Homo sapiens: one gene and its partners. The protein of the gene in region 2 interacts with the protein of the main gene of each other region in a biochemical or structural test. Each region holds a gene or a part of one and is shown on either strand. Other genes may lie near its edges. The genes, in order: ESR1, EPAS1, NDN, CHD4, KPNA1, PDK1 and KPNA6.

Region 1 (3,500 bases), on a different chromosome or scaffold from region 2:
AAGCCTGGCTAATTTTTGTACTGTTTTGTAGAGACAGGGTTTTGTCATGTTGGCCAGGCTGGTCTTGAACTCCTGACCTCAGGTGATCCACCCGCCTCGGCCTCCCAAAGTGCTGGGATTACAGGCATGAGCCACTGTGCCCGGCTTATTTCCTCTTTTAAAACTTACTATTATTATTGTCATTCTCAAACTATTATCTCATAAACGTTATATTGTCTATATCAGATATTCAGTGTGGGCTATGTTTTTTAAATAACAGATGGTATTTGAATATATAAAAGATATAAATCCTTTTCAAAATGTTGCTTTGTCTATTTTTCTGAAAAGTTTGACAACCATCTGTAGAGCTTTTGCAGAAGACTTTTTTCTTCCCTCACTTTTAGTCTCTTTAAAATCAATGACTATTTTTATTCTGCTTGGTCAGGCAAGTAGGCCTTTGATTTACAACAGCTGTATTCCCATGGAACACACACAAACACACATACATATAATTTCATTTTTGCCTTTATAATTCTTTTTTTTAATTATCAAGTAAGAAGACATAGTTTATTGGTCTAAGGATTTTGGAATCATTCAGGTCTTTTAAACGAACATGATGAAGTTACAGAGTGGTTTTGTTACACATCTCATTGCCATAATTTTGTCTAGCTCTGGCTTTAATAATTGTATTTTAACTATTGCTAGCCTGTGTATAATATTTTCCTTTCCTTGACTTCTCCATTTTATTCCTAAATTCAGAAGATTATTGATGTGAATTCTTCAACCACTGGTAATGTATTTGAGCTTAATTCCAGTTGTTTAAAATGCTCTTCAACATTATTATAAAAATGTCATGATGGGAATCTACTGATACACATGAAAATGTCTGTACTTGAGTTCAGCAGTGCTCCAGAGCTAATATTCCCAAGATTTCATAAGGGAAAATATATGTTTACAGGAAAATAAAACTGAACAGCAACCAAGAGTTGGCTCTCAAATATATGACCATTAGTTTCTTTGCTTGTTTGTTTGTTTCTCTTTCCCTATAATATAAGAACAAGGCAATAACAAATATAAAGAAAAAACTTACAGCCATATTACAATTAGATTCCAACAATTAACTTATAATGTATCTGCTTCATATGAAAATGCTAAAATATGTAGGTACTCAAGAAAACTTTTCATTCTGAAGATGACCAGAAATTTTTGTTTGCCAGTTCGACTGACACTGAAAACCTACATTTGCCTATTATTCTCCATGCTTCCATGTAAACTAATAACCACTCAACCACCAAAATGGTGGCCTCTAACAAGGCTGGGTTCTGGTACTGCTGGCTCCTTATTCTACGGCCCACATGTTTATATACTGATAGATGCAAATACATGTAAGATTCTCTAAGGCCAGACATAAGTTCACTTGGCCTATAACAGAGCAGTGACCCTTGAAATGCAAGTACAAACTCCACATTTTTTTAGTTTCATATAAAACATTTCATGCTTCATAGGAAACAATTAATTTCATCTATTAAAAGAAACCAAATGAGAAAACCTCCAACTAAATCTATCACTCATTTAACCTATAAGCCCAGAAAAAAAATTTAGCTTCTTCTTGCCTCGGTTTATCTACATTAGCTCCTGAACGAATACACTGGGGCAGGGAGAAAGTCATTTTCTAGTCTTGTTGCCATACAAACTTGAGTTCTTCTCCCTGAATAACAGGAGTAACAGTCCAATTTTACCAGAACACCAGTTCTGAGAGAATCAACTGAAGGAACAAGGTATCACTTCAGCCACTGTGTCTTTCTAAAAGTTTCTTTCAGGGATGATACCTTAATTTATTTTTCCATTGCCTTTCTCTTTCTCCTAAAACACTAAGCATACACCAGGTTGGATAAATAATTGGCATTCAGTAAATACACTTATTATTATCTTTTTAATCCATAAAGATCTTTCTCTTTTTTTGTGTGGTTTATTTTTTATGACACGGTCTTGCTCTGTCACCTGGGCTGGAGTGCAGTGGCACTCCACACAAACATGGTTCACTGTAGCTTTGACCTCCTGGACTCAAGCCATCCTCTCACCTCGGCCTCCCCCATAACTGGGACCACAGGTGTGTGCCACTGCATCCAGCTAATTTTTAAAAATTTGTTGTAGAGACAGGGTTTCGCCACGTTGCCCCGGATGGCCTCAAGCTCCTGGGCTCAAGCAATCCTCCCACCTCAGCCCCAAAAAGTGCTAGGATTACAGGCACGAGCCACCACACCGAATCTTAAAAATCTTTTTAAGATAAAATCGTTTGATTAATAATTGAGATGTTTTCAACAAAGGTCATTAATATTACAAACTTTTGTAGTTCATTTAGTGTTAAAAGTTTCTGCTACTGTGAACATACACTATTAAATAGTTTTACCATGTAGTGTCCACCCTAAATCTTTTTGGTAAATGAGATGGGTTAAAAATAAATTATGTCAATTTAAGAATTTCAGTCTTCTAGATTCTGATTTAAAAATATTATTTCCTAATCTCCTGGAAAATTACAGTGTATTGATACTGAAAATGAACACATCTCCTGTAACCTTGAAACCAATTACATAACATGTTATTGCTTCTTTTTCCCCCACTATTTCTCCCATGACATCACAACAAGTTCTTGAAAAGCTATTGACTCTTAAAAGCTGCGCTTCGCATTCTTACCTGGCACCCTCTTCGCCCAGTTGATCATGTGAACCAGCTCCCTGTCTGCCAGGTTGGTCAGTAAGCCCATCATCGAAGCTTCACTGAAGGGTCTGGTAGGATCATACTCGGAATAGAGTATCGGGGGCTCAGCATCCAACAAGGCACTGACCATCTGGTCGGCCGTCAGGGACAAGGCCAGGCTGTTCTTCTTAGAGCGTTTGATCATGAGCGGGCTTGGCCAAAGGTTGGCAGCTCTCATGTCTCCAGCAGACCCCACTTCACCCCTGCCCTCCCCATCATCTCTCTGGCGCTTGTGTTTCAACATTCTCCCTCCTCTTCGGTCTTTTCGTATCCCTGAAAACACAGGTGGAAAAAAAAATTAGTTTATTTTTTTCCCGTGTAAACTTTTATACAAAAAATTTTCAAAGCTAACCAGCTTTCATTTTATTTGAAGAAATACTTTCAAGCACAGGTGAGCTGGTAAGTGTTCAACAAGTGGCTCTCCAAGAGAAGAAGAAAAAGATTTCTATTTGTAGCAGTTTTCATGGTGTAAATACTACCACCATAACATGCCAATTTTCATGGTGTAAATACCACCACCATAACAAACTTCAGGCCACTTGTCTGACATCAAATGGCTTACAAAACTCCTGAAAATTGAACAGTAGGCTTTGGTGAGCCCATACAAACTGATTCCGACACACTAGGTAGGGGTGTGTGTGTAACAGGTGTTATAAAAAGAACAGAATTCTAATTTTAGTTATTCTTAAAATAGAATTTAGCATCCAAGACTACTTCTGCTAGGAATATTCTTTTAATAGTAAATTAAAAGGGCATTTTTAAAA
Region 2 (3,500 bases):
TCACTCTGCTCCTTCAGTGGTGTCTGTCCCACGGCCTGCTGCATGCCCGGGGAACGTGTCTGCCTCCAGAACCACTGCCTCAGGTGGGGTGCTGAGACCCAAGAAAGAGGAAAGCGTGAGGTGCGGGCTGCAGCACAGGTATGTGGAAGCTTCAGGAAGAGCCTGGGGTTGCTGACCCCCATGCCTCCTGGCAGCAGGGAGGAAAGGCTGAACCACCTGGCACCTATGCTCACATACACAGAACATGCAGAACACACACATACATACAGATGCAAACACAGACTGCCTCAAGATTCAACAGTCTGAAAATCCAGTTTCTGGTCACCACCCTCAGCAGTCCTTTCTTCTTGCCTCTGTGCTATTCTCTTGCCGAGGAGGCAGACCAGGGAGTGGCAGGGGGGACACTCGCAGCACACACACAGGCCCCCATCCCAAGGAGGAAAGGCTTAGGTGGCAGCAGAGAGCCTGGAAGCCCTGCATTCTGCCCCTCCGATGGGAGATGCCCACCCACCTTCCCTTATCTGCAGAGCCTCGTTCCAGTGGCCATTGCCTCCTGCACCTCCTAGCTCAGATCCTTGCTGGGGTCCATGCCTGCCTCCCCAGCTTGACTGCTCCTGTGGACAGTATCAATGGATACCTGCTCACCATCCCTTGCTAACTTCTCTTATTCATGGTCAGAAAAGAGTTTGATATGATTCAACTCTTTTGAAAAGAATATGATTTTCCCTTGATTTCAATATTCAAGGTAATTCGTGGGCTTCACATAACAGGAAGAATAGTGCTGGCTACCTCTTACTGCACATAAATATATACCAGCCCCTGAACTCAACAGCAGAGCCAGAATTTAAGCCAGGGCTGTCTGGTGTTTCTACAGCCTGGACTCTGAAGCACAGAACTATAACCTTCCCCAAACTCTATTGCTGAGGAAATTGCCTTTTAGAACAGGGGCCTGGTATGTTTTTCCATAAACCACGAATTATTTTCAGGCCAAACAAACCTCATGAAGACATATATGTTTCACAAGATACTGTCAAGATGAAGGTGGCCCAGGGTTGAAGGCAGGCATTGGTGCCTGCAGTTGAACCAAGTCCAGTGGGGTGGGCCTACCAGAGCTTTCCAGGCTGTTCTACCTGAAGGAAGTTTTGGCATGTTCTCAGCACCTGCCTGAACTCAGAGTGACACCCCAAAACACATCCACATGAAGAACTGAGGAAGGGGCAAGGCTCCGGGATTCTCAGGGTGGAAAGAGCCCTGGATGGCACCTGATCATGGGAGGGTTCTCCCTAAAGCCCCAGGGAAGGAGCACTCCCTTCTCCACGCAGCAAGCTCATCCTTGCATAGACGGGAGATCCCCTGCCTCTGCCCAGACCGCTTCCCAACTCTCTCTCTCTGAACTTTCTCTTCTCTTCTTCAACAGGCCCTCACCACTGTGGCCGCCTGCTCTTTCTTCTGAAAGTGCTCCTGTCAACAGTGGTACAGTGTTCTGGGGGTCGCCAACCCAGTGTTCAGTGTTCAGTCCTCTTTGGGCAGTCGGTAGTGGTCTGCATTCTTTCCTTCAGTATTCTAGCCTGAGTTTGAGTTTTTTAGCTGTGTCTCAGACCCACCCACTGGGGGGCCTGATCACTGATGTCACAAGGAACTTGTGAGGAGGTTCCCTAAATCCAAGGAGACCTGAGCCCTGTATAGGTGACTTCAAGTCAAGCACCTCCCTGTGCCTGGCACTGTGCAGACGCTGGAAAAAAAGTAGACGTGGGCTTCCCCTGGCATCGAATCCTGGGATGGGGGTGACAGATCCTGGGCACACCCACCTGACACCTTGTGGGCTGACGACAGGCTGTAGTCCTGGTACTGGGTGGCGTAGCACTGTGGGGGGAACCTGCTCTTGCTGTTCTCCCCGGGACTGATGGCAGATGGAGGCTGTGGCAGCGGCAGATGTCTCAGGGGATGGCCCAGGCCCCTCATGGGGTTTTGGGTGAACTTATCTGAAAGACCAAAGTCAGAGAGTGACGGTAGCATTGGCCTGAGGGAGGGGAGAGGCCAGGAAGCCCTAGCATCCCTTTCCTTTATAAAAGGTGCTCAGAGTCACCAGAACTACAGCCAACCTTCAGGACCCTCTGATGGCATCATCTAAGTCAGAGTGGAGATGGAAAAGTTGGGTGTGTGGGACTGCGGGAGAGACAGAGGACATCGCCCCATTCTAACAAGGCTCAGAGAGGCAGGTACGGCCTGTGGTGAATGGAAGAACCAGGATGGGCTCCCGAGCCCCAGTCCTTCCACCAGAACCCCCAGGAGGCCCAGGCCTGTGGCCGCTGCTCACCATTGGGTACATTTGCGCTCAGTGGCTTGTCCGGCATCAAAGGGCAGCTCCCACCCCTGAGGTTCTTCATCCGTTTCCACATCAAATGTGAGGTGCTGCCACCAGGTGGGTCCCCCTGGGAGTAAGAAGGGCAGATGGAAAGGGGAAATGGCCAGAGAACCAGGTCCCCAGACTGGGTGGGTTGGGTGGGCCTGGAACAGGGCTGGCACTTGCTGGCTTGGAAGGGCCACATCCCCACCCCTCTCAGCAGCCCTGGGTTCCCTAAGGGCTATGCTGGCTTGGAAGGGCCACATCCCCACCCCTCTCAGCAGCCCTGGGTTCCCTAAGGGCTATGGAGAGGCCCCTGTGGCCAGTGGGGATGACTCACCCCGCTCAGGTCCTGGAAGGCTTGCTCTTCATACTCCAGCTGTCGCTTCAGCTTCAGCTTGTTGGAGAGGGCTACCATGGCCGGACTCAGCACGTCTGGGCCTCGAGCCCCAAAACCCTTTGCAGACCTGCCAAGCCCGAGAGAGCAGGCTATGAGGGAGTCTGGAGCCACATGCCACTCAGTGCCTTCTCATCTTAGGGGCCCTTCCAGTCCCAATGCTGATGCCTGTGATGACTCAAAGACCCAAAAGGCAGAGTCTCAGAGGCAGGCTGTGCACCTGCAGGCCGAGCTCGAGCTCTGTCTCCTTCCTCAGCTATAAGATGCTGAAGGGCTCAAGCCTCCTGGTCTGGGGGATGGCTGCCTGGCTGGGCAATGTTAGTCCTTAGGAGGGTTTCTTCTGCCCATGTCTCTCCTCTGCCTTTTGCTCCCACTGAAAACTAGTTTGGCTGCTCTATAAAGGGCAAGTACCAGCGGCCCCTGGGAGTGGCAGGTCATGTACCAACCCCTGTGCCTTAGCCCAGTGAGCTCGCAGCTGGTGAAATGAGCATGCTGGGGAGATGGGAAGGCATTTCTGGAGCCTAGGCACAGCTGGGAGAGGCTGCAGTGGCGAGGACCCGGGGGCAGCCAAAAGGCAAGGGGAGGCAGGGGTATCTTTTTGCTGTTTTCAACCAGGGAAAATCATCACTCAATTTTCTGTGTGGCTCAGATGATGAACCGAGATACGAAAGGCACTCTGGTGGTGGTCCGAAGGGAGACACTGAGGTACAGGGCTCTCAACAAGCCACTTCTTTGCCTGCCCTCAGTGGCAGCCCAGAT
Region 3 (3,680 bases), on a different chromosome or scaffold from region 2:
AAAAGTAAGTTTCTTAATTTGCACAATCAGAATGATATTGCTTTCTCCAAAATATCATGAGAATTAGAAAAATAAAATTCCTAGCCTTTTTGTATGTGTGGCCCATGAACCCATGTGATTGTAGGCTCCCACATAAAATGTAAAAATAAATTTAAAAATAAATAACCTAAAAGCCACGGGGTATAGGGCAGTCGTAGGCAGGTGGAGACAAATGTGGGCTCTGGATTCATTCTGAGTTCAAGTCCTAGCTCCTTCTCTTATTAACCTTTATGAGCTATGGAAAGTTCATTACCTACATTATTCCTGTGTTTCCTCCATGGTGCAGAGGCAGTAGGTGCCTGCCTGACAGGCCTGTTGCAAGGATTAAAGGAGAAAAATACATGTTAGGGCTTAGCACAATGTCTCACTCTTTTATATTATAAATATGTTATATGTATATTAATAGATGTCACAAGACATCTATTAATTTTGATAAAATGTAGAAACTTAAGGGAAGGAAATTATTTTTGTTTTTTATTCCCATATGATGTGATTACAGACAATCTTACTGTTTTGTTTTGTATACTTTTCTATATTTGTGAATGTTTTTGAAATAAACATGAGTTACATTTAAAGACAATAGAACTATAAACTTCACAAATTTAGGAGTAATCATGAGTAGCGATTTTTCCCACCCTATTAGGGGAAATAGTTGTATCTGTATACACTGTAAAATAGAGAATTGTCTCATTCCCAACCATACTGCTTTGTTAAAATGATAAAGTACACTTTTCCAAAAATGATTGTATCACAAGAATCTTTAATGTTTACTTTAAAGTTGACTCACGGTGGGGTTGTATATGTGTTTAGTAAAGTGTGCCAAGTGCTCACACTGAGACCAGTCCAGTTCAAATTAGTGTACTCCACGAGGGTGTTTTCTGTGCCCAGCAAGGTCATGAAGGGCCTTGACTTTTCTTGGTTAGGCCGGCTTTGCTGGTGACTTCTTCCAAACTCTGCAGGAGCAGTCTACCCCAACACACATCATCAGTCCCATATAAAAGAATAAGATGGAAACTTTCTCAATGTATTTCATCAGTTTAGCACATCTCTGGTACAAAAATCCAAGAAAGGTAGCACAAAAGCGAAAGCACCAACCAAGCTTACATATAAACAAACATGCATACATCCTAAATACTACACAATAGTACCCAAATGAATACAACATTGCATTAAAGGTATAAAAGCACTGTACTGAAAACTTAAAAGTTACACGTGAATACTGCACTGTAAATCCTGAATACTATAATGACCCACCCCCACCCTTCCACAGCCCTGGTGAGGGTCAGAAACCATTCATCTGCCTCCAGACTTTGCTAGTCCTCAGAGACACTGCTGCGAGGGTAGTGGGCAGTGGGATTAGCCTCCCGCAGAGCTCTGGCCTCCTCCAGAGCTTCTCTGTATCGGGAGGGCCAGGCCTGGGGGTCTTTCTTAAAGACCCTGGCCAGGAACTCCATGATTTGCATCTTGGTGATTTCGCGGCTGGCCCGGGAGCCCCAAAAGAACTCGTATTCGGGCGGCTCCACGTATGGGACGCGCTGGTACTTCAGGTAATTCATTTGGACGAACTCCTCAGTGATGAGCTTCCGCACGTCCCCGAAGGTGGAGTGCTTCTTCCAGGGCCGCAGCCCCAGGATGCGCAGCACGTTCCAGACGGCGCTCTCTCTGGCGCCGCGGCCCTTCACGTAGATGAGGCTCAGGATCATGAGCAGGAGGCCTGTCATGGGCATGCGGTTGCTCAGCGCCACCCTGTCCAGCTCCTCGGGCTCCAGCGCTTTGACCAGCGCAAACTCCATGGTGTGCAGGCTGGTTAGCCTCAGGTGCAGCCCGAACACCCGGGCGAGGATGAGGCTGGTGCGCCGGAGGATGCTCCTGCACCACTTCTTGTAGCTGCCGATGACATCTTTCACCATGTCTGGAAACCAGATGATCATCTTCTTCTGGTCCTTGACCAGCACGTACCACATGAGCTCGTGCGCCTTCTGCACCAGCTGCGCCGGGGCTGGCGGTGCCGGGCCCGGCTGGGCCGCGCTCGGGGCCTGGTGGGCGCGGCCCTCCTCCGCAGCCTGCTGCAGGGCCTTCGGGTCGCCCTCGTCGTTCGGGGCCTGGGGAGGCGGCGCGGCCTGCGGAGCGGCCGTCGGGCCTAGAGGAGGGCTCTGCGGCTCTGCCAGGGTCGCGGACGGAGGAACCCCCTCCGAAACCCCAGGGCTGCTGTGCACCTCGGAGTTGGGGGCCTCGGCTGCAAAGTTAGGGTCGCTCAGATCCTTACTTTGTTCTGACATGTCTGCGCCGTCTGGCAAGGGCAGGGCCTCTGCGTCCAGGAGCTCTTCGAGCCTGCGCTCCCTCCGCGGATTCCTGGAGAGGAAGTGCGCGTTGCTGCGCGCGGCGCCTTCCGCAGCGACGGGCAGGGCGGGGCGGCGGCGGGACGCGGCACTGCGCCTGCGCGACCGCGGCCTTGGCCAGCGGCTGGGGGCGGGCGGGGCAGCGCGGGGCCCCGACGGGGAGGGTCCATGGCGAGGCTTCACCTGCTGGGAGAGCGATCCCGGGGTTTCCTGTTTGGGCTGAGAAGATCTAGGGCAGGAGAGAAGTGAGATGGATGCGTACTGGAGAAGGGGCCAGTTTAAGGGAAAGATACCTTAAGTTTTTGGGATGTTGGGGTCAAGTTTCTTGGGAAACGCTTACCTGGGTATATCCAGAATTAAGTTAAATATGAGAGTCCCAGAGAAAGGTCTGGGCGGCTTTGTAAACATGAGCTTTATGCGAACCAGTGAGAGGAACAGTCGGGCTTGTCCAAGAAAATGTGTAAACTGTAAAGTGGATGTCTGAGGTTGGAATCCTGAGAAATTCCAATAAAAAATGATCGACTCCCTACCAAATCAGATAGGCTATAAGAAAAGGGGAAATGCAGTGTGTCGTTAACGTAATTTCCTATCAACCCATGTGAACTATGAACTTTTTAAGTAGGCAGTGGACTTAGAGCATCATTAATGCTTTAACGGGCATAAATTTGGGTTTTACACTTCCTTTGGGTAACTTTGATTCCATTTTATTTTTTTCCATACTTAGTCCATAGCAGAAGGATTGCTATATCTTTTAGCACAAACTTGTATGATAATGTCTTTTCCCTCTGCCCAGCACCCTCATTCTTCAATTCACCTTCTCTCAGGACCCTCTCTGAAGCTACTGAGTCCTCCACGTTGGAAGCCACACCCAAGTCTTTCCTGAGATTTAAAAAAAAAATAGGTCCCATGGGTAATATCTGGTAGTGTCTCTGAGATGACCAAAGGGTAGCAGGGGAAACATAGGTAACCCTGTTTTCCAGGTATGGAAAACAGATTCCCAGTGGGCAAAGACAAAACTGTCACTCCTACAGGCTCTCCATGAAAAAAAGGGTCATTGCCTGAGCATCTGAAACCAGGGACCTTAATGCTGCTTCAGCATCCTTGGTCTGGGCTGATGTGGTCCTTCAGCTCTTCCCGGGTTTCTTCTCATCAGCAGCTTCTTAAATATGCTGTCTTGAATCTAGTTATTGCCACTCGAAGCCAAAAGCATATTTAAAAATTGTCTTGACATGTCTAGAGTCCTCACTGTGAGTATGTATCTTTTCCCACTTTATTTTTCCTCAAGCAGGTTGATGTTGAAAG
Region 4 (3,500 bases), on a different chromosome or scaffold from region 2:
TGGGCAACAAGAGTGAAACTCCGTCTCAGAAAAAAAGTATATAAAGACTTAATGGGAGAGGTAAGACTTGTAGTTATGGTGGGACCTTGGGTTTTTGGAAAGGAGTGGGCTGGGCACTTGTATAGAGGAAGGTGAGAGCAGGAGCAGCAGCGCAGGTGTGTCAGTCCTTGGCTCAGCTTGAGGGGGCAGCAGGGTGGTGGGTGTTCGCTGGGGTTGCAGTGTGCTGGGGCCCTCAGTCCTGACTCTCCTCTTTTTTCTCAAAGGGTCATTCCAAAGGCCCCTTCCTAGTGAGCGCCCCTCTTTCTACCATCATCAACTGGGAGCGGGAGTTTGAAATGTGGGCTCCAGACATGTATGTCGTAACCTATGTGGGTGACAAGGACAGCCGTGCCATCATCCGAGAGAATGAGTTCTCCTTTGAAGACAATGCCATTCGTGGTGGCAAGAAGGCCTCCCGCATGAAGGTATCTCAGGGGAGGGAAGCCACCCTAGAGAAAGAGTTGTGGCTTCTGGCTTAGTTTACCTCCTTGTGATCTGGTCCCTGGTGAGGCAAAAGGGTAACCCTGGGAGGAGGAAAACATTCCATCAGTCTCCTGGTTGTGCTTACACAGAGGAACTGACTAGTAGTGACCAAGTTGCCTTCATGTGCAGAAAGAGGCATCTGTGAAATTCCATGTGCTGCTGACATCCTATGAATTGATCACCATTGACATGGCTATTTTGGGCTCTATTGATTGGGCCTGCCTCATCGTGGATGAAGCCCATCGGCTGAAGAACAATCAGTCTAAGGTGAGGGCTGAGGGAGGGATGTTGGAGCCCCCACTTTGGGTTTTTTCTAGTACTACCAATTCATTAAGGGGAAAACTTGTAGATGGAGAGGAGAGGGGAAAATTGTCTCTGCCTTCCTTCCTTGTATGTGACAGCCCTTGGTGGCCAGGCCTTTAAAAAGAATGTGAGGAGTGGGATGCTTAACTATTGGGCAGTGAAAAACTTGAAATTTTGTAGAGATTTGCTAGAGCTCTGTTTTCATTGGATTTCACCTTTCTCCATCTGCTTCACCAGTTCTTCCGGGTATTGAATGGTTACTCACTCCAGCACAAGCTGTTGCTGACTGGGACACCATTACAAAACAATCTGGAAGAGTTGTTTCATCTGCTCAACTTTCTCACCCCCGAGAGGTTCCAGTAAGTATGTGTTTATCTGTAATCGGCTCATAATTGTGCCTCTCATTCTTCCTGTTGCCCATTTCCTGTATCACTTTTCTTTCTTCCTTTCTCCTTCTCCAATAACTTTTTTCCTTTTTCTTTCTGAAGCAATTTGGAAGGTTTTTTGGAGGAGTTTGCTGACATTGCCAAGGAGGACCAGATAAAAAAACTGCATGACATGCTGGGGCCGCACATGTTGCGGCGGCTCAAAGCCGATGTGTTCAAGAACATGCCCTCCAAGACAGAACTAATTGTGCGTGTGGAGCTGAGCCCTATGCAGAAGTGAGTTGGGAGGGACAGAAGCAGACTCCATTTAGACATCTGCCAGTCTGCAGAGTGTTTCCTATTCCTCCCCCACTCAGCTTCAAGGCATCTGGTGACAGGAGCAAGCAAGGCCTGAAGAAACCTGATGCTAGGGCGCTGGAGCGCATAGTTCTTACTTATTTTAGGTTATACCTTTCCTTATTTAAAATGGTGGTGGTGGTAGTGCTTGTGCGTTAGGTGTCCTTAGTTCCAAAGTGGGATGTGTTGGAAGAAAGATCTCAGTTGTTGGCACTGCATTATTAGTCATTGAAAGGCTCTCAAGTCTAACCTGTCTTTCTACCTTGCCCATGTAGGAAATACTACAAGTACATCCTCACTCGAAATTTTGAAGCACTCAATGCCCGAGGTGGTGGCAACCAGGTGTCTCTGCTGAATGTGGTGATGGATCTTAAGAAGTGCTGCAACCATCCATACCTCTTCCCTGTGGCTGCAATGGTATGTAGTGCCATCTCCTGTTCCTCCCTGGGTTGGGTCTTCTCCATGTGGGCTTTCTTTTAATACTTTTTTCTTTGCATTTGTTCTCAGGAAGCTCCTAAGATGCCTAATGGCATGTATGATGGCAGTGCCCTAATCAGAGCATCTGGGAAATTATTGCTGCTGCAGAAAATGCTCAAGAACCTTAAGGAGGGTGGGCATCGTGTACTCATCTTTTCCCAGGTATCATGTGGACTGGGAGCTTTAGGGAACAGTCATAGACAACCCTTAGTGACCTAAGGAAAGGGATTACCATCTGACTCTTCCATAATTAAACCGTGCTTCTTTTGCAGATGACCAAGATGCTAGACCTGCTAGAGGATTTCTTGGAACATGAAGGTTATAAATACGAACGCATCGATGGTGGAATCACTGGGAACATGCGGCAAGAGGCCATTGACCGCTTCAATGGTGAGAGAGAAGGAGTTGTTTAGTTTCAGGAATCCTCATTTGCTTATATCTTTGGACTGTAACTTCTTGTGCATCTCCTTTTCTGTGTAGTTCTTTTGGGACTTTGTCATTTGAGATGGAGTAAAGCTTTTGAATGTCTCAATTGGACGAATGTATTGGACTATTCCTAGGAGATTTTTTCTTTTGGGGTATTTGTTCTTTCTGCTAGAAAGAAGAAAGCATTGTATCTCGAGGGCAAGCAAAGGGTCAGGACTTGTTCAAGCTCAAATAGCAAGTTACTAGCAGACTTGTCTGCCTCAGTAGACGCTACTAGGTTTTTTTTTTTTTTTTTTTTTTTTTTTTTGAGATGGAGTCTTGCTCTGTCGCCCAGGCTGGAGTGCAGCGGCACGATCTTGGCTCACTGCAACCTCCGCCTCCCGGGTTCAAGCAGTTCTCCTGCCTCAGCCTCCCAAGTAGCTGGGACAACAGGCGTGTGCCACCACGCCCAGCTAATTTTTGTATTTTTAGTAGAGATGTGGTTTCACCATGTTGGCCAAGATGGTCTCGATCTCCTGACCTCATGATCCGCCCACCTCGGCCTCCCAAAGTGCTGGGATTACAGGCACGAGCCACCACGCCCAGCCTGTTTTGTTTTGTTTATTCGAGATAGGGTCTCACTCTGTTGCCGAGGCTGGAGAGCAGTGGCACAATCATGGCTTACTACAGCCTGGACACACCCCCAGGCTCAAGTGATCCTGCTGCTTCAGCCTCCCAACTAGCTGGGGCTGTAGGCTTGATCCACTGTACCTAGCTAACTAAAAAAATTTTTTTGTAGAGATGGGGTCTTGCCATGTTGCCCAGGCTGATCACAAAGTTCTGGGCTCAAGCAATCCTCCTGCCTTGGCCTCCCAAAGTATTGAGATTATAGGCATAAGCCACTGTGCTCAGTATCACTACTCCTTGTTTAAAAAAAAAAAACTTTTTATTTTAATTTTAGACTTAGAAAAAAGTTGCAAAACAGCAGAGAGAGTTCATGTATACTGTTCAACTAGCTAGCTTCTCTTAATAATAACTTACGTAACTGCAGTACAATGATCAAAACTAGAA
Region 5 (3,500 bases), on a different chromosome or scaffold from region 2:
TTCTTTTTAAAAAAACTGTGTGTGTGTACACATATATATATATGTACACATATATAACCTATTTTTAAAATTACGTAATTACAATACTCTAGAAATCTAGATAGGTCTAATCCATACAAATAAAGCATGACTTTTATCTCTTCATGTTAACTTCAAAAAAGTAACAAAATGGTTTACAACAGAAAAATCCAAGAGTTCTGATGTGGAATCAAGTTTTTAAATCATACAAACAGGTCAATTTTGTAAATCAATAAAAAATCATTATTTTCTTTAAAGTATCTCTTATGGCTTGGTGTGATGGCTCAAGCTTGTAATTCTAGCACTTTGGGAGGCCAAGGCAAAAGGATCACTTGAGGCCAGGAGTTCACCTGGGCAACACAGTGAGATCCTGTCTCCACAAAAAATTTAAAAATTTGCCAGTCATGGTGGCACATGCCTGTAGTCCCAGCTATTTGGGAGGCTAAAGCAGGAGGATCACTTAAGCCCAGGAGTTCGAGGTTGCAGTGACCTACGATTGCGCCACTGCACTCCAACCTGGGCAACACAGCAAGACCCTGTCTCTAAAACATAAATAAATAAATAAATAAATAAATAAATAAATAAATAAATAAATAAGGTGTCTATTCTTATTCAACTTTTAAAGAGTAATTTTATCTTATAATTAGCTTGTTAAGTTTTTAGAGCAGAATTAATCTTTATAATTTAACTGCACTTTATCCAAAATATAATAAACATTTAATGAACCATGAGATTAAGCATATTCTTTTTAAAAATGAAATGCCAAGTACTTTTTGTAGCCATCTAACCTTTTTTAAAACTCAAAAGGAAATCTACATCTCATATCTTCATCACAAAAACACTGAAAAGAGTTCATTATCTTACTGGTGCCATCTCCATGTTACTAATCTGAGCCTCATGAAAGCCTCCATCTGACATAACTTCTTCTTCTGTTTCTTCTTCTGCTGTAGCAACATTTCTCCGCTTGAATAACTGAAAGATAAAAGATTGGTAGCAATGTAAATGTAAATTCTAACACAAGGGAGTTCAACATTCAAATACTAGGCACCCCATTCAAAGTGAAGTCTTTGAAAATCATTTTTAAAATTCTAAAGCTGTCAGCTTTTACTGATGAGTAACCATTTCAGATTTCTCCATAGTCTTATAATCAAATATAATTAACTATTACAACATGCTATAAACAACACTTGATAATGTAAAACTTACTAAGAGAGGTCTGACACTATATGACATTAAAAAAAAAAAGGTTGGAAAAAGGAGCTGGGTCATGCTTGGCCATTTTCCTCATCCCTTTATGTAAAGTATACATCAGGACAGTCCTAACAATGTACCAAGGAAAATGAAAATAAAAACTATGTTCAAATGACTTAATACTTCCCTCCTAATCTCCAAAGATGGTGGACTGTGGCTTCTGACCTTCCCAACCTATCCAGCAACCAGTGGCAACAAATGATGACTGCTTAAGCACTACCTTTAAAGCAGCTCCGTTAATGTGTATAGGCAAAGGAGACTAGTTCTCTCCAAAGTCAGCCAACGAGGGTGATTACCATTATATCCTTATGAATCCTGGGCAGCACATTTATTCATCAAGCCATGATGGAGTAACAGTAACTTACCCTCTCTCACGCTGAACAACTAAAAACAGACAAAATACATAAAATAATGTTTCAGCCATTGGACAATAAAAACCACAGAGTAGTGATATCTCAGAAAGAAAAACCCAAGATAAGCCCCAATACTGCCTCAGATTACTATGCAGACAGTTCCAGGCTGCAGTGCAGGAAAGGTAAACTCAACCAGAGTTTAGATGCTCCTTGGATTTGAGAAAACACAGTTCAGAGCTGAGAAGGCCAAGAGACCTAAAATTCATAACGCAGAGTACAACACAAAAAGAACACCCAAGATCTACAGGAGGTTCTCTCTGAGATTTAACTTAATACTAATCAGCACATAATCATATTCTTTCAGAAGACAGAAGCAGAGACAGTACTTCTCAACTCATTCTAGGAGATCAGCATTACTCTTAATACCAAAACCACCTACCAAAGGCCTATTTAACAGTAGTTTCTTTTACCCAGTACATGTCCAGCTATCAAGAAAAAATTACAAGGCATACTAAAATATAAAAAACACATTTTGAAGAGACAGAGCAAGTATCAGAACCAGATTCAGCCACGGCAGTGATGTTGAGATTATCGGACCAAGAATTTAAAACTACGATTAATATGCTAAGGGCTTTAAATGGATAAAGTGGACAGCATACAAGAACAGATAGGCAATGTAAGGAGAGAGATGGAAATTCTAAAAAAGAACTAAAAAGAAATGCAAGAGATCAACAACAACAGAAATGAAGAATGCCTTTGATCGACTTTTTAGTAAACAAGACACAGCTAAGGAAATAATCTCTGAGCTTAAGGAAATCTCATTCGAAATCTTTAAAACTGAAAAGAAAACAGAAAAAGGACTGACACAAATAGAACAGAGTATCTATGAACTGAAACAACTACAAATGGTATAATAAACATGGAATGGAACTATCAGGAGGAGAGGAAAGAACAAAAGAAATATTTGACACAATAATGACTGAGAATTTCCCCCAAATTAGTATCAGACACCAAACTGTAGCAGGCCATGTCTCATTAATGCAGGGCTCCATAACAACTGTTTCAGTACTGACTGACTGGTTAAGTTAAATATTAAAAGCTAAAAAAAGCCAGTGCCCTTATACAAAGGCTGGAATCTAACAAAAGCCCACCAAGAGTTTTGCCTAGGCCTTTCCTGGGCCTTAAAGCATAACAAAGAAATTCCCCAGGCCTCCACAAACAAGTTTATTGGATGTCTGAAAGAACTCCCCAAACCTCCACGAGCAGGAGACAAGATAAGGGTAATCACCTCAGCACCTAGATTAAGTAAATTTACTGAGACTCCAGAGGAAGGTCTTCAAGACTCAGACCTTAGTTACAGATTAAAAGAAGTTTCATCACTTATGTCTTTAGATGAATACACACTTACACGCAGACATATAGCTTAAAAGGTATATAATATCTGGAAAACTTTGTAATTTCGAGTTGGTCTGGCAATAATTTCTAGGCCTTCTCCCTGTAACCAGGTACAAAAATAAAAACTCTCTTCCTCCCCAGTTCATCTGCATCTTGTTATTGGGCCATGAGAAACAGCAGCCCAACCCAGTTTGGTCTGGGAACAAAACCACTGGAAGCCCAGAGAACACCAAGCTGGACAAAGGCCAAAAAAATCCCACTACACCTAGGGATATCATTTTCAAACAACAGAAAATCAGAAATAAAGGAAAAACAATCCTAAAAGACAAGGGTAAAAACACTGTACTTAACACATGAATAAAGATAAGAATGATAACCACACATGCCAGAAGAAAGTGAAGTGAAATATTTGAAGTGTTGAGAGAGAAAACCACCAACCTAGAAACTCTGAACCTTGCAAAATCATCCTTCAAAAGTGGAAAC
Region 6 (3,500 bases), about 130 Mb from region 2:
TTATCAGATTGAAAGCCACCCCCTCTTTCCTCTAGTTTGCTGCTGGCTGATGAAACACAACTGAAGAGAGACTACAAGCTTCTGATAGAGGGCAATCATTTTCACCCACCAGGACCTGTGCCCCTCACTCCTCACCCATTTTCTTGTCAACCAGCAAGTATTATTGGCGGGGAAAAAAGATACTCTCAATATTAGTAGCATAATTTGTTTTCAAATTTTGTTGTAAAGAGCAAAGATTACAGCAGAAACCCTGTAAGTCAATATAAATGACCTCCCCCTCCCAAGAAAAGCCAGACCAAAAAAAGAATTCTGGTCCTTTGAGGGTAGCAAGTTGAGAATCACTCTTCTAAATATTGTTTTATAAAAACATAAAGATAACTCTATTGAGCACCTATATGTAATACGTTGCCACTGTACTGGACACTTAGTATGTTATTCCCAATAGTCATAAACAATCCTGGACAGTATTCTTGTTTTACAGAAAAGGAAACTGAGGCTCAGAGAGGTTGAGTGACTTGCCCAAGGTCACACACATATTAAGAGCCATAATTGGGATTCAAACCCAGGTCTTTCTGACTCCATAGTCTGAGCTCACCACTACATGGAGATGTCTCCCTGTGTTGATAAAAAGCTGATCTCCAGCAATGTGATATGATACTGATGTGAAATGGCACTTCTTAATAGGAGAACCTAGTGGAATATTTGGCTTTCAGAGCAGATTCCTAACCTCAGAAAAGTACTGGTAAAGGTTATGTAATACTATTTTACAAACCTTGAAAAGTTCAAACACCATGTGATAGAGATGGGATGGTACATAAACCACTTGTATTGGCTGTCCTGGTGATTTTGCTACAGAGCAGAAGAGAAAAATATGAAAGTACAGAGAGATGTGCTTAAAGCATTTTTAAGAATAAACTGTGTAGTGATGAAAAGAAAACATTAACTACGGAGGACAGTATTACCTGGGGGAGAACTGCCACACCATTTCTTCAATGTATTAGTGTTTGAACCCATACCCACAAATATTTACAACTGATGATGACAAGAGTCCTGTGGTCACTTCTCACAATCTTGCATCACAATCGAACCAACCCATGCGCCCATTTTTCTCTAGGATGGTAAAGTCTTTTTTAAGATCGCTTAACTTTCGGGTAGGAATTTTACTTTCCAAATAGAGAAGTGTTAAAATCTTTAAATTCCACAGTCCAATTCACATGCATGCATACATTCTTCTTCTTCTTTTTTTTTTTTTTTTTTTTTTTGAGACGGAGTCTTGCTCTGTTGCCCAGACTGGAGTGCAGTGGCGCGATCTTGGCTCACTGCAACCTCCACTTCCCAGGTTCAAGCAATTCTCCTGCCTCAGCCTCCCGAGTAGCTGGGATTACAGGCGCCAACCACCACGCCTGGCTGATTTTTCTTTTAGTAGAGACGGGTTTCACCATATTGGCCAGGCTTGTCTCGAACTCCTGACCTTGTGAGCCACCCGCCTCGGCCTCCCAAAGTGCTGGGATTATAGATGTGAGCCACTGCGCCCAGCCCATACATTCTTTAAGCCATTTTCAAAATGTTTCACCTGGGTGGAATATTGTTTTATTTCAGGCATTTCGATGGATATAAAGCTGAATAAAAAATATGAGCTAGCATCAATTTCTCGAGACAGTAATTAATTCTACATTTAAACACTTAATAGGAGCCCCACTGGGGGTGGTGATAGGGGTGTGTATAAAACAGACATTTAGTAGAACAAATGATTAAGACTCATGATATCTTAGAATTCTAATTCAACCAATAAATCAGACCTTCCTCTGAATAAACTCCCCCTTGGGAACAAAAATGGGACATCTGGAAATTGCTCACAGCAGTTCAGGTTTGCAAACTATCACTTACTTGTACACTGTGATTGTTATTTACCAAATGCTATGCTACCATCATGGCTCAAAAGAGTTAATATGGCTTTAGAAAATCACCAAGCAATGCTATTTTCAATTGCATAACTTCACTGCTCTCTCACTCTAAGGTCCAGAATACAGCTTAGTAAAAGCCTATTTTGTTTTATTCTTCCCACACCTTCTTAAAGTGTCATCTTAGGAAATGCTTTTTTCTGTCAAACTACCATGCTTTCAGGAAAAAGAGACTCATCAATCCCTCTTCAAGGCATCTAAACCCTTTTTGTCCAAAAGGCACTAATCAGGGTAAAAAGAAAACCATCAGAGACAAACAGATTCTCAAATAGATGAGCATCTTTCTTTCCTCTTTTATAACCCCAGTCTATGTCCTCAACAACAGAAAATTATTTACAACTCAGGAAGTAGAAAAAGGGTAAGTCTTACATTAGTGAAGTGCATGTAAAAGTCAAATGTAACTTTCTTGGTATCATTTTCTTTCTATGACTAAACAGAAAATAAAAAATAAGCAAAGAATCAAAGTTATCAATTAAAAATAAAGAAAATGTGATACAAAAAGCCAAATCTTTTCATAAAGAATCTGACTAAATTACATATGTTTATAGATATATTTTTTACATGATTACTATCCTTTAGCCTTCATATCCAACGAAGTTGATAAAAAGTCATCTTCCATTAAAACATTTAAATTCTTATCCCTTATCAAGTAATCAAAGCACTAATTATTGAGAAAAAGACAACATCAGGCTTACCATTTAGTTCTTCAAGTTCTAGTTCGGGAGAGTTAATATAATACAAATCACACAGACGCCTAGCATTTTCATAGCCATCTAGTGTGAATCAAAACAAAACAAAAAAGGATTTAATAAATATACTTCTCTTTCACGCATTAAGATGGCAATGGTATTGACAAATCAAAGTCTTGAACTCTCTACAGAAGAAAATATACTTTGATAGTTTGGTGAAAGTCTGCTTTTTTTTTTTTTTTTTTTGGTAGAGACATGGTCTCCCTATATTGCTCAGGTTTGTCTCCAACTCCCAGGCTCAAGCCATCCTCCTGCCTTGGTGCTAGGATTACAGGCATGAACCACTGCCCCCAACCAGGGAAAGCCTTTCCTTTTTTTTTTTCCTTTGAGACGGAGTCTCGATCAACCAGGCTGGAGTGCAGTGGCGCTATCTCGGCTCACTGCAGCCTCCACCTCCCTGGTTCAAGCGATTCTCCTGCCTCAGCCTCCCAAGTAGCTGGGACTACGTAGGCATGGGTCACCACGCCCAGCTAATTTTTGTATTTTCAGTACAGAGGGGGTTTCACCATGTTGGCCAGGCTGGTCTCGAACTCCTGACCTCAGGTGATCCACCCGCTTCAGCCTTCCAAAGTGCTGGGATTATAGGCATGAGCCACTGTGCCTGGCCCAGGGAAAGTCTAAGTGTGACATGACAAAGCTGAATAGCCATAAACAATGAATGACAAATATAACTACAAAAAAAATGTAAAAGTCTATATGCTAAAAAGACACCAACAATGTAAAAAAGAAAAATAACAGGCTGGAGAAAATAATTGCTATCTATGTAACAAAACTTAAGAGTTGGTTAGGA
Region 7 (3,500 bases), on a different chromosome or scaffold from region 2:
GAAAACTAAGTGGAATAACTGGACTTACCACCTGGGACATTGTGAGTTAGTTAAGTTTGAGTCATGGTCCCTTTGAGATACTGAAAGCTATGGAACTCCACCCCTGCTTCCTAGATCTTTAAGGTCTCATGGATATCATGGACCTTGGAATAATCTTTTGTAAATAACCCTTCTGGTGAAGGCATAGTAAACAAAGTTCCCCTGCTCAAAGGCTAGAGATTTGGGTATTCTTTGGGTTTTGAGTAGCGAGCATAATTCTGTGGGATTCTGGACAGGTTTCTTAACAGGTGAGTAGTGTCACTCAAACACTCAAACCCACATGCTCATTTTCTGGGTTACTTTGTATATGTATATGCATGTACTTTAAAATACAACATAAAATTTACCATTTTAACCATTGGCATAAAGTACATTCACATTGTTTTTCCGTTATTGCCACTAGCCAGCTACAGAAATTTTTTATCATCTCAAACTGAAACCGTACACATTAAACAGTAACTCCCCATTCTCCCTTCCCCTAGTGCCTAGTAACCACCATTCTATTTTCTGTATCTGTGAGTTTGAGTGCTCTAAGTACCTCATGTAAGTGGAATCATACAGTGTTTATTCTTTCTCGTCTGGTTTATTTCACTTAGCCTAGTATCTTTAAAATTCGTTCATGTTGTAGCATGCATCAGAACTCCTTTGAAAGGCTGAATGATATTCCACTGTATGTATATACCATATTTTATTTATCCATCAATAGACATTTGGGTTGTTTCCACCTTTTGGCTATTGTGAATAATGCTGCTATGAACATTGGTGTACAAATATTTGTTCAAGTCCCCGGTATATACCCAGAGTGGAATTGCTGGATCATGTTCTAATTTTATGCCTAATTTTTTTGAGGGGACACCATACTGTTCTGCACAGCTGCTATGCCATCTTACATTCCCACCAACAATGCAGCATGTTCCAGTTTCCCCACAGCCTTGCCAACAGTTGTTATTTTCCGTTTTTTGTTTTTTGTTTTTTTTTTGATAATACCCACCCTAATGGGTGTGAAGTGATATTTCATTGTGGTTTTGATTTGCATTTTTCTAATGATTGGTAATGTTGAGCATCTTTTCATATGCTTATTGGCCATCTGTGTATTTTTTTTTTTTTTTTGGACACATGTCTATTCAAGTCTTTTGCTCATGTTTTAATTGGGTTGTTGAGTTTTCTGGTTGTTCAATTTTAGGAGTTCTTCATATGTTCTGGATATTAATCTCTTATCAGACACATGTTTTGCAAATATTTTCTCTTGTTCTGTGGTTTTATCTTTTAACTTTGGTGTCTTTAAAAAAAAAACTTTTAACTTATTTAATTTTTTAAAATTGAGACAGAGTCTGTCTTTGTCACCCAGGCTAGAGTGCAATGATGCCATCTCGGCTCACTGCAACCTCTGCCTCCTGAGCTCAAAGCAGTCCTTCCACCTCAGCCTCCCAAGTAGCTGGGACTACAGGCATGCACCATCATGCCTAGCTAATTTTTTGAATTTGTTTTTTTTTGGAGAGACAGGGTTTTACCATGTTGCCCAGGCTACTCTTGAACTACTGGGCTTAAGCAATCCTCCCACCTTGGCTTCTCAAAGTGCTGGGATTACAGGCATGAAGCCACCTCACCCAGACCAACTTTCTTTTCTTTTTTAATTTTTTTTAGAGGGTCTCACTATGTTGCCCCAGCTGGCCTTGAACTCCTGTGCTGAGGTGATCCTACTGCCTCAGCCTCCTGAGTAGCTGGGACTGCAGGTGCATACCACTGTGCCCAGCTTACTCCAATGTCTTGATGCACAACAGTTTTTCATTTTGATTAAGTCCAGTTTACCTGGGCCAGGTGCAGTGGCTCATGCCTGTAATTCCAGCACTTTGGGAGGCTGAGGCAGGAGGATCACTTGAGCCCAGAAGTTTGAGACCAGCCCTGCAACATGGGAAGACCCTGTCTCTACAAAAAAAAAAAATGTTTTTTAATTAGCAGAGTGCGGTGGCACCCTGCTACTCAGGAGTCCCCAGCTACTCAGGAGGCTGAAGTAGAAGGATTGCTTGAGACTGGGAGGTCAAGGCTGCAGTAAGCCATGATCATGCCACTGCACTCCAGCCTAGGCAACAAAGTGAGACCCTATTTAAAGAAAAAAAATGAAGCCGGGCACAGTGGCTCACACCTGTAATCCCAACACTTTGGGAGGCCGAGGCAGGCAGATCACCTGAGGTCAGGAGCATGAGACCAGCCTGGCCAACATGATGAAACCCCATCTCTACTAAAAATAGAAAAATTTTCCGGGCGTGGTGGTAGGCGTCTGTAATCCAAGCGTCTTGGGAGGCTGAGGCTGGAGAATCACTTGAACCTGGGAGGCGGAGGTTGCAGTGAGCCGAGATTGTGCCATTGCACTCCAGCCTGGGCGTCAGAGCGAGACTCTGTCTCAAAAAAAAAAACAAAAACAACAACAACAACAACAACAACAAAAAAACATAAAAAAAATTAAAAACAGTTTAATTTTTCTTTTGTTTCCTGTGCTTTTGGTGTTCTAGGTCATTCTTAACTGTTCAGCCCTACCTTGCCTTCTCCACTTGTTGAGCAGTCCCAAGGAGTCAATCCGGAAGGAAGCTTGCTGGACTATTTCAAATATTACTGCTGGCAACAGGGCTCAAATACAGGTAAAACAGGCAGGGAAGTCAAGGGGCATGGGAAGTCATAGGAACTTGGGAGGTTGTTGGAATATTTGCTTTCAGAAGAAAGAATTTGTTTCCCTTTAAAAATAGGAGTCAATTGGCCAGGCACGGTGGCTCACGCCTGTAGTCCCAGCACTTTGGGAGGCCGAGGTGGGCAGATCATGAGGTCAGGAGTTTGAGACCATCCTGGCCAACATGGTGAAACCCCATCTGTACTAAAAATACAAAAATTAGATGGGTGTGGTGGCGGACGCCTGTAATCTCAGCTATTCGGGAGGCTGAGGCAGGAGAATTGCTTGAACCCGAGAGGCAAAGGTTGCAGTGAGCTGAGATCACGCCACTGCACTCCAGCCTGGGCAACAGAGCGAGACTCCGTCTCAAAAAAAAAAAAAAAAAAAGAGGGGCTGGGCATGGTGGCTCATGCTTGTAATCCCAGCACTTTGGGAGGCTGAGGTGGGCGGATCACAAGGTCAGGAGATCAAGACCATCCTGGCTAACGTGGTGAAACCATGTCTCTTCTAAAAATACAAAAAAAAAGAAAAATTAGCCGGGCGTGGTGGCAGGCGCCTGTAGTCACAGCTAGTCGGGAGGCTGAGGCAGGAGAATGGCGTGAACCTGGTAGGTGGAGCTTGCAGTGAGCCGAGATCGCGCCACTGCACTCCAGCCTGGGTGACAGAGCAAGACTGTCTCAGAAAATAAATAAATAAATAAATAAATTGGAGTCAGTGTGTACTATTGGTCAAAGAAGCTGTGTAACCAAAACTGGGTTCTTCTGTAGTAGCCTGTCACCTATATAGGAAGAACAAAAGA

Evidence for each region.
Region 1: the proteins of EPAS1 (region 2) and ESR1 form a complex in vitro, tested with the Homo sapiens proteins (one study listed by BioGRID).
Region 3: the proteins of EPAS1 (region 2) and NDN form a complex in vitro, tested with the Homo sapiens proteins (one study listed by BioGRID).
Region 4: the proteins of EPAS1 (region 2) and CHD4 form a complex in vitro, tested with the Homo sapiens proteins (one study listed by BioGRID).
Region 5: the proteins of EPAS1 (region 2) and KPNA1 form a complex in vitro, tested with the Homo sapiens proteins (one study listed by BioGRID).
Region 6: of the proteins of EPAS1 (region 2) and PDK1, one has a biochemical effect on the other in vitro, tested with the Homo sapiens proteins (one study listed by IntAct).
Region 7: the proteins of EPAS1 (region 2) and KPNA6 form a complex in vitro, tested with the Homo sapiens proteins (one study listed by BioGRID).

The regions. Positions count from the first base shown.
Region 1 is NC_000006.12:151,943,682-151,947,181, reverse strand, and holds part of ESR1 (estrogen receptor), read right to left. Parts: intron 3,010-3,500; coding exon 2,674-3,009; intron 1-2,673.
Region 2 is NC_000002.12:46,380,907-46,384,406, reverse strand, and holds part of EPAS1 (endothelial PAS domain-containing protein 1), read right to left. Parts: intron 2,812-3,500; coding exon 2,685-2,811; intron 2,433-2,684; coding exon 2,318-2,432; intron 1,983-2,317; coding exon 1,809-1,982; intron 1-1,808.
Region 3 is NC_000015.10:23,684,900-23,688,579, forward strand, and holds NDN (necdin), read right to left. Parts: upstream 2,407-3,680; 5' UTR 2,319-2,406; coding exon 1,353-2,318; 3' UTR 501-1,352; downstream 1-500. UniProt on the Homo sapiens protein: Growth suppressor that facilitates the entry of the cell into cell cycle arrest.
Region 4 is NC_000012.12:6,590,380-6,593,879, reverse strand, and holds part of CHD4 (chromodomain-helicase-DNA-binding protein 4), read left to right. Parts: intron 1-263; coding exon 264-464; intron 465-651; coding exon 652-789; intron 790-1,062; coding exon 1,063-1,184; intron 1,185-1,313; coding exon 1,314-1,487; intron 1,488-1,822; coding exon 1,823-1,964; intron 1,965-2,054; coding exon 2,055-2,186; intron 2,187-2,296; coding exon 2,297-2,414; intron 2,415-3,500. UniProt on the Homo sapiens protein: ATP-dependent chromatin-remodeling factor that binds and distorts nucleosomal DNA. Acts as a component of the histone deacetylase NuRD complex which participates in the remodeling of chromatin.
Region 5 is NC_000003.12:122,466,440-122,469,939, forward strand, and holds part of KPNA1 (importin subunit alpha-5), read right to left. Parts: intron 991-3,500; coding exon 883-990; intron 1-882. UniProt on the Homo sapiens protein: Functions in nuclear protein import as an adapter protein for nuclear receptor KPNB1. Binds specifically and directly to substrates containing either a simple or bipartite NLS motif.
Region 6 is NC_000002.12:172,566,090-172,569,589, reverse strand, and holds part of PDK1 ([Pyruvate dehydrogenase (acetyl-transferring)] kinase isozyme 1, mitochondrial isoform 2 precursor), read right to left. Parts: intron 2,735-3,500; coding exon 2,657-2,734; intron 2,391-2,656; coding exon of another isoform or gene 2,374-2,390; exon of another isoform or gene 1,568-2,373; intron 850-1,567; coding exon 773-849; intron 1-772. UniProt on the Homo sapiens protein: Kinase that plays a key role in regulation of glucose and fatty acid metabolism and homeostasis via phosphorylation of the pyruvate dehydrogenase subunits PDHA1 and PDHA2.
Region 7 is NC_000001.11:32,163,556-32,167,055, forward strand, and holds part of KPNA6 (importin subunit alpha-7), read left to right. Parts: intron 1-2,549; coding exon 2,550-2,675; intron 2,676-3,500. UniProt on the Homo sapiens protein: Functions in nuclear protein import as an adapter protein for nuclear receptor KPNB1. Binds specifically and directly to substrates containing either a simple or bipartite NLS motif.